3 separate regions of the Homo sapiens genome follow, and regions 2 and 3 are each linked to region 1. The links come from fine-mapping of genetic effects on gene expression. A gene starts in region 1. Each other region holds a variant in brackets. All regions are shown on one strand. Distances are from middle to middle.

Region 1 (2,856 bases):
AAAATACACACACACACACACACACACACACAAAATAGCTGGGCGTGGTGTCAGGTGCCTGTAATCCCAGTTACTCAGGAAGCTGAGGCAGGAGAATCGCTTGAACCCTGGAGACAGAGGTTGCAGTCTGCCGAGATTGCACCATTGCACTCCAGCCTGGGCAACAAGAGTGACACTCCGTCTCAAAAAAAAAAAAAAAAGCTGTATGTTAATTGTAGACTTTTAGGAAAGACCCGTTTTTGAAACATTTACCTTTCACAAGGTGCACACACAGATTTGGACACACCAAATCAAAAAGTAGGGTTGACTCAGTGGACTAACTTAAGAGATAGACATCACGTTGGTATGCCAATCAGCTATGCCATTCCATGCAGCCTCAGCCTTGAACAGTCTGGAATGCTTTATAAGGTGGAACCCACAGATAAGTTAAGACTCTCTTATCTGCCTACAGCAGCTTTGAAAATTTGAAGTCATTGCCTGGATTGCTTTGTCAACCCCACGCTCATGCAACATTTCATGGAAAGACTGTCATCCATACTCAGTCAAACAATTTCTGTGTACAAAACTGTAGTTCTTGTTACCTTCTCTGAATGTCATTTCATCAGCACTAGTTTCTTGGAGAGAAAGATCTGTGATAGCCTTATGAACAATAAAGAGTTTCTCTTCTGGGTTTTCTAGGAAAAAAATATAAAATCAGTATTTTAACATTTAAAATATTTATTGTTCAACAGTTAATAAGTTATCAATTTAAACTCTAGGTAGAAGTCTTTAATTTTAAATCTGATCATTAAAATTTACTATTTCACTCTTTGGATTCATTCTTTATCAATTCAATTTATTTACTTAATGATCACTTTATTGATTGTAATCTCTCCTTTAATATTTATATAAGATATATATATAAGATATAGAACCATAAATTCAGAGAACTTCAGTTATATTTAGAAGGAAATTTTAACATTTTGAATTCTCTTTGTTCAAATAATATGGGGCTGTCCATAATCATAATAAATACAGTAGTTAACATTTAGCCAATACTTACCCTAGACTTGTAGTTATTATTATTATTCCGCCTTCTTCTAGTGAAAAAAACTCAGGCTTCGGGAGACAGAAAGTTGTCTGGGGTCACAGCTGTCAAATAGACCAGCCTGGATTTCACCAGAGGCAGAGGTTTAGTCCTTATACTATGCGTAGTAGAATAAAGGGCTACATTTTTGGGGTGTCCAGCTCATTTCGATAATAGTTTATCAAAAAAATCCAGGGTAAATTTATAAGTCAAAACAAGAAAATTAAGGAGAAGGGAAACACTTTACCTTTTAGCATTTTGTCCTCCATGGATGAGTTGAGCAGCATGTTCCCTTGTAATTTTCTTCTTTCCTCCTGACTTCCTTTGGTGAGTGCACCTTCCAGACTGGGTTCTACCCTGTAGTGTGGCAGGGGGCTGTCCACATCAGTCAATTCCTCACTGATTTTAGTGATTGTTTGTTGACCGTTTTCAGGTGGTTTATCCCCATTACACTCAGCCTGGGTAAATGTAGCCGGAACATCTGTCATGATGTGCGGTTGAATCCGATCTGGAGAGAGAGCTTTAGGGAAACTGAGTGAGTAGATCCTTGATAAGATACCTGCTCTTGCCTTCAAGTCCTATAGTTCCAACTCCTACTCTAAGAGCACAAATTATTCACTTTAGTACATAATAACAAGGTTCTTTTCCTAAAAGTATCCAGACAGAGATTAGAGCAAAAGCAAGAGGATTTGTCAGATCTGCCAGGAGCCATGAGCAAGAATCCAGCCAATCACCACCTTCTTTGTTGCTTGCCAGTTCCCTGGCAGAGTTAAAGGCATCCTTTTGATTTACATAAACAAACAATCTGAAGCAATCAGGCTTTTGTGTTGGCATGTAGAGAGGGACTTTCAGCTTGTCAGTCCCCCTCTGGGAACAGAGATTTTTGTCCCTTTTCATAATGGCCCATTGTAATTTTCCCTGTAACAGGAGCCACAATTGTCCCACAGCTTTAATCCAGAGAGAATGACCACCTTGAGGCATATTAGTTCTGTGTAACCAGCTTAACATTTCCAAACAGATTTTGTTCAAGTAAAACCTCAGCTATTTTGTAAAGGACAATGGCATTGTTTCTTATTTATTAAAAAATAAAACAGCTTATGGAAAAAACCTATAAACAGGACAACTTTACTGTAAATGGTTCTGGCTGCAGATTTGATGGTGTGCTTCCAGCAGGCTGGAGAAGGGACCTATGAAATAAACAAATTCTACCAACTTGCTAATACCAAAAGTTTTATAATTTCAGAGTAATTTACTTAGTCTATAGCTTCTTATCCTCTAGTTTATGTCTGCTGAAGCCCAGCCGATCCTTTAAAACCCTAATAAAATTATCGCCATGAAGGTTTCTCCTCCCCCAATCAGAATTACAATCCTTTCTATTCCATACTGATATTACACAATGCTGGTAAAATGTAGAGGACCAATGCAATCTGCCCTTGGGAGAAACAGGTGATTATGTTAAATGACTGCTACTGACCACCCCTTCCTTTTTAAATCTTTTTCTTTTTTGGATTTCTCATAGTACAAAATGGTTCCAGAGCCTTTGCCCACACAGCTCCTTCTATGTGAAATGCCCTTCTCTTCCTCAAGCCCAAGCCCTGGGCTGACCAGCTTCCCTAAGTTCTGTTTTTAAGCTTAAATATCATCTCCTTAACTACACTATCTCTAACCGCCAGGATTAGGACAGGACTCTGTTACACATTGTCTTTGCCCTTCAGAGTATTCTTCATGGTTGTAACTAAATAAGCAACTGCACAATTATCTCTGTAATGTCTGTTTCACCAACTGCAAAC
Region 2 (2,856 bases), 78 kb after region 1:
TCGGCTACTGAAGCTTGTGCATGCGTCACGTAGTTCTTGTGCCATGGTTTTCAGCTCCATCAGGTCATTTATGGTCTTCTCCATGCTGTTTATTCTAGTTCGCCATTCATCCAATCTTTTTTCAAGGTTTTTAGCTTCTTTACAAAGGGTTCGAACATCCTCCTTTAACTCAGAGAAGTTTGTTATTACTGATCTTCTGAAGTCTTCTCTCAACTCGTCAAAGTCATTCTCCATCCGGCTTTGTTCCGTTGCTGGTGAGGTGCTGTGTTCCTTTGGAGGAGAAGAGGTGCTCTCATTTTTAGAATTTTCAGCTTTTGTGCTCTGAATTCTCCCCATCCTTGTGGTTTTATCTACCTTTGGTTTTTGATGATGGTGATGTACAGATGGGGTTTTGGTGTGGTTGTCCTTTCTGTTTGTTAGTTTTCCTTCCGACAGTCAGGACCCTCAGCTGCAGGTGTGTTGGAGTTTGCTGGAGGTCCACTCCAGACCCTGTTTGCCTGGGTATCACCAGCAGAGGCTGCAGAACCACAAATATTGTGGAACGGCAAATGTTTCTGCCTGATCCTTCCTCTGGAAGCTTCGTCTCGGAGGGGCACCCGGCCATATGAGGTGTCCATCCACCCCTACTGGGCGTTGCCACCCAGTTAGGCTACTCGGAGGTCTGGGACCCACTTGAGGAGGCAGTCTGTCCGTTCTTAGATCTCGAACTCCATACTGGGAGAAGCACTACGCTCTTCAAAGCTGTCAGACAGGGATGTTTAAGTCTGCAGAAGTTTCTGCTGCCTTTTGTTCAGCTATGCCCTGCCCCCAGAGGTGGAGTCTACAGACGCAGGCAAGCCTACTTGAACTGCAGAGGGCTCCTCCCAGTTCGAGCTTCCCTGCCACTTTGTTTACCTACTCAAGCCTCAGCAATGGCAGGTGCCTCTCCCCCACCCTCACTGCCGCCTTGCAGTTCAATCTCAGACTGCTGTGCTAGCAGTGAGCCAGGCACAGGATCTAATCTCCTGGTGTGCCATTTGCTAAGACCATTGAAAAAGTGCAGTATTAGGGTGGAAGTGACCCGATTTTCCAGGTGCCATCTGTCACGGCTTCCCTTGGCTAGGAAAGGGAATTCCCTGACCCCTTGCACTTCCCGGGTGAGGTGATGCCTCGCCCTGCTTCAGCTCACACTCCGTGGGCTGCACCCACTATCCAACAAGCCCCAGTGAAATGAACCCGGTACCTCAGTTGGAAATGCAGAAATCACCCATCTTCTGCATCGCTCACACTGGAAGCTGTAGACTGGAGCTGTTCCTATTCGGCTGTCTTGTAACCTCCCCGACTTGTGGCTTTTTCAATTATCCATTTCTCTTTTCAGAAGTGTGGAAGCACC[A/G]CCAAGTAAGATCCCAGCATTTTCAAAAGATTTAGGACAGAAAATGGAAACATGATCAATAAAGGTTAGTTTCCAATGCTGAATCTAGCAATCAGGGGCTTAGGAAATTAATTTACATATTGAAGAGATATGATCTTCTGTTCATGCTGATAATGCAGGTTTTACTGGTTAAGCTCAGAATAGGTAAAAATAAAAAGTATTTGCTGGCCTGAAGAAAGAAGTCTGTGGGAAAGTAAAGATGTAAGAAGTGGGAAAGACATGCATTCATTTCAGTTAGAAATACCAGCAAAGAGAAAAAGGAGATAGAAATCATTGGAGGCAAGGGAATTGAGGGAACTCCTTCTAGATGGCTTCCACTTCAGCAGACTAGGAGTCATGGTTACATGCAGAAAATGATGTTGAAAAGCATGGAAATTTCATACATTCATGTTGGAAAATCTAAGAGGAGGTTATTAGGAGGTAGCTTTCTTCTTAAGACACTTTTAATATTTTTGACATTTTTTATCATTTTGCTTATACTCCATCCCGATTACAGTTCACCAACACCAGAGCTAACAGAGAAATTATAAACTTCCAGGGTAGTGTTTCTCAAAACATGGTTCCTAGCTATTAATGCAAGAATCTTTTAGGGAACTTGTTTATACAAAGACTTCTGAAACCCACCCAGGCCTATTCAACAGAATCTCTGGGGCCCAATGCCTGAGAATCTGCACCTTTACGAGTTGCTCAGGTGATTCTGAAGCAGCAAGCCAGCATTTGACGGGAGGCTGCTGTTTTAGAACCACTAGATTAGCTCATGTCTCATCCAGGTAGTCTCATGCATGACTATTCACCCACATCCTGTTTTTAATCAGTGGTTCTGTCTGTAGTTTTGAAACTCAGAATAAAATGTCACATATTGTGGTGAGGAAATAACAACCATGTCTTCAAATACAGCTGGTTGGGATCAGATCCCTACTCATTATCATTTTCTATGTTTTTCCTATTTTTAGTTTATACTTTTAAAATTTACTTACATCATTTATTGATAACCAAAAATGGTAGAGTTATTATAATTAAGCAATTTTTATAATAATAAATAGCATTGTCTAGCAAGCTCATTTCTTTTTTTTATTATTATACTTTAAGTTTTAGGGTACATGTGCACAACATGCAGGTTTGTTACATATGTATACATGTGCCATGTTGGTGTGCTGCACCCATTAACTTGTCATTTAACATTAGGTATATCTCCTAATGCTATCCCTCCCCCCTCCCCCCACCCCACAACAGGCCCCAGTGTGTGATGTTCCCCTTCCTGTGTCCATGTGTTCTCATTGTTCAATTCCCACCTATGAGTGAGAACATGAGGTGTTTGGTTTTTTGTCCTTGCAATAGTTTGCTGAGAATGATGGTTTCCAGCTTCATCCATGTCCCTACAAAGGACATGAACTCATCATTTTTTAAGGCTGCATAGTATTCCATGGTGTATATGTGCCACATTT
Region 3 (2,500 bases), 89 kb after region 1:
TGAAATATAGAACATGACATACCCTTCCTTCCTGTACTTTGGTTAACCAGTACTTTTTTCTTTATTCTCAGAACATACCTCGACTCTAATTCTTACCGCAAACTAAAGTGATGCTTGCTCCGTCCCTTCCCTGCCCCTTTTTTGCATTTGAGGTCTACTGTCATACAGCAGTGTTACACTTCTGTATTAAAATCACAAGAAAAGCAAATGATCTATGGTCTGCTTTCCCGTATGACCTATGTCATTCTGTGTAGTTCTCAAAGCATTTTTTCACCTTGTAGAAGATTTCAAAGTCATCTTTCCTCAAATAAATGTGGTGTTTCCTTCCCCTGGACTTTGTGAAATAGGATAACAAGAAATGCTGAATTCATATAAGTAGACCTTTAACAGGATGATTCTAGACTATGATGAGAAATAAGCAATACCAGTTGAATCATAACTGGTTTGCAAGCTCTTGTTGAAAATAAATGCACTGCTAATCATGTAGTTATTAAAGAACCTATGTCTGAAACTTGTATATGAGGAACAGAGAAATGTTTGTTTTCCTATTTACCCAAAGAAATGCTCTTATCTGTGCAGCATCTATAATTGTACATTTTAAGTATTCCTGTTGGGTGGAATAAAAAGTACTGTGATGATCACTAAACAGAACCAAAAGAGTAAAAGATATCTGGAATAGACTAGAGCAAGGAAGAACTGGCTTCCAATTTTAGCCCTGCCACTGACTAGCCTTGTGACCCTGAGAACATTTCCAAATTCCTGACTTGTTATCTGTATGCCTAACACCTACTATATAGTAATTGTGAGGATCATACGTAAAGTGTCTTTAGCCAACTAGGTACTCAGTAAATGGTAGACAGTATTGCTATCATTTCTGTGAAAGGTGTGACACCCTGCCTTTCATATGAGTGACTGTCATGCACAGGCCACTGGATGTTTCTCAGTTCAAAGAGTTAATAGAAGGCAAGTCCCAACTAGAAATCTTTTCATACTTTATCATTTCTTTCTCATCTTAGATGCTTCCTTACCCTACCCTCTTTTATCTCAAAATAACTCATTTCTTAAGCAGAAGTTTAATTAAATTTAGCAGCTCTACTTAAATTGAAGTGTTTCTATTTCTCCCAAACACACACACACACGCACAGAGAGAGAGAGAGAGAGAGAGAGAGAGAGAGAGAACTTAAAATCAGCAGACTATTTATTACATAGTCCAGATTGTCTACTCTAGAATATAGGTTATGAATAGCTGTGCCACCAGAACAGAGAATTCATAGACTTCAATGGATATTAAATAAAACATGGAGTAATTGAAAGGCTAGAAGTAATGTGATACTAACATAACCAATAGGCAAAAGACTGCTGAGGTGATAGCTATTTAGAATATAAGATATAAAGTGAGAAGTAATATGAAAAAAACTACAGGAGGGAAGTCCTTTTCCCAACCCTCAGTTTTGGATGTTAGACATTTGTAGAAAAAAAATTACAAAGCTGTAGGATTCGGAGAGTTCTAGACTTGCCATTAATGTTCAGGCAGAACAAAAGCTGAATTGGGCAAAAAACA[C/T]GACATCCCCACCCATTTTGTTTAGACTGTCTATAAAAATGACTTTATTATGATCTTTGCAGCACCCATCTCAGACCACATCTTTCCATGGTTCTCATGAACCTTAACCCCTCCTATTAAATCTTATACTTCCCGCTTTATTGTCACTATAGATGTGAGAAACAGCTGATGGTCATCTTTGTTTACAAGCCATTACAGGTTTGAACAAATTCAAAATTGCCTATTATTAAGCCTCCGCAGGAGCTACTGGGCATAAGCAAACCTAAGATTTTATAACCCAGCAATTATCCTATAGAAAATAGTCCAGATTATTATATTCTGCCACACCTTTATTCATACTTGACTCCAAAAAGTTCTCAATTATTCACAGGGATAATCTAGAAAATAAATATTAGTTTTGCTTTCAAAGACATTACTGGAATGAGCAGGAACCTGCATCTTTGTTATATTAATTAACTTATTATTTAGTTTTCCTGTCTGCTTAGAAATTGGCTGTTTAGGTTGAAAAATGATTTAAGAAGCATAAACTATAACACAACAATTTAAATAAAGGTCACTATTGCTGTGAAATGGGATGTCAGTTTTGCAATTCTTCTGCACTTTCCCACCAAGCTGGGATCTGGGTGAGTCTAGAGATATTTGTGAAATAAGCTAATTTGAAAGGACACCACAATCCGTCAAAAGCGACTTTCTTCCTCTTCCACAGCACGATGAAGGCCAGGGATAAATTTCAAGAGTTGCTTTCGGACACTTCCCTTTCTGCTCTTCCGGGGCAGGGTCCCAAACATGCTTGATAAGTTGCCCTCCCACAAGGGAGACATGGATCCGCTGCTGGTGTTACTGATGCTCCGGTTCCTCCTTGAAGATGACCTCCTCAGAAAATCATCCCCCTCCTTGGGGATAAAGCACTCATCATCTGTACTCGTCTGCCGACTGAAG

The links.
Region 2: its variant is fine-mapped to the expression of ERMN in whole blood (TOPMed, PIP above 0.99).
Region 3: its variant is fine-mapped to the expression of ERMN in whole blood (TOPMed, PIP 0.95).

Annotation. Positions count from the first base shown.
Region 1 is chr2:157,324,089-157,326,944 of GRCh38, forward strand. It overlaps ERMN (ermin), which reads right to left and starts at 1,736. Exons shown (of 3, transcript NM_020711.3): 1 at 1,314-1,736; 2 at 582-674. The coding sequence starts at 1,554. RefSeq lists an enhancer at 1,620-2,169.
Region 2 is chr2:157,402,384-157,405,239 of GRCh38, forward strand. No RefSeq gene overlaps it. Among named protein-coding and RNA genes, the nearest start is that of CYTIP, 40 kb to the right of the region's middle. RefSeq lists silencers at 2,146-2,195, 2,226-2,325. The variant A/G (reference allele first, on the strand shown) is at 1,373.
Region 3 is chr2:157,413,439-157,415,938 of GRCh38, forward strand. CYTIP (cytohesin 1 interacting protein) reads right to left here. Exons shown (of 8, transcript NM_004288.5): 8 at 1,181-2,500. The coding sequence ends at 2,239. Among named protein-coding and RNA genes, the nearest start is that of CYTIP, 29 kb to the right of the region's middle. RefSeq lists an enhancer at 264-313. The variant C/T (reference allele first, on the strand shown) is at 1,562.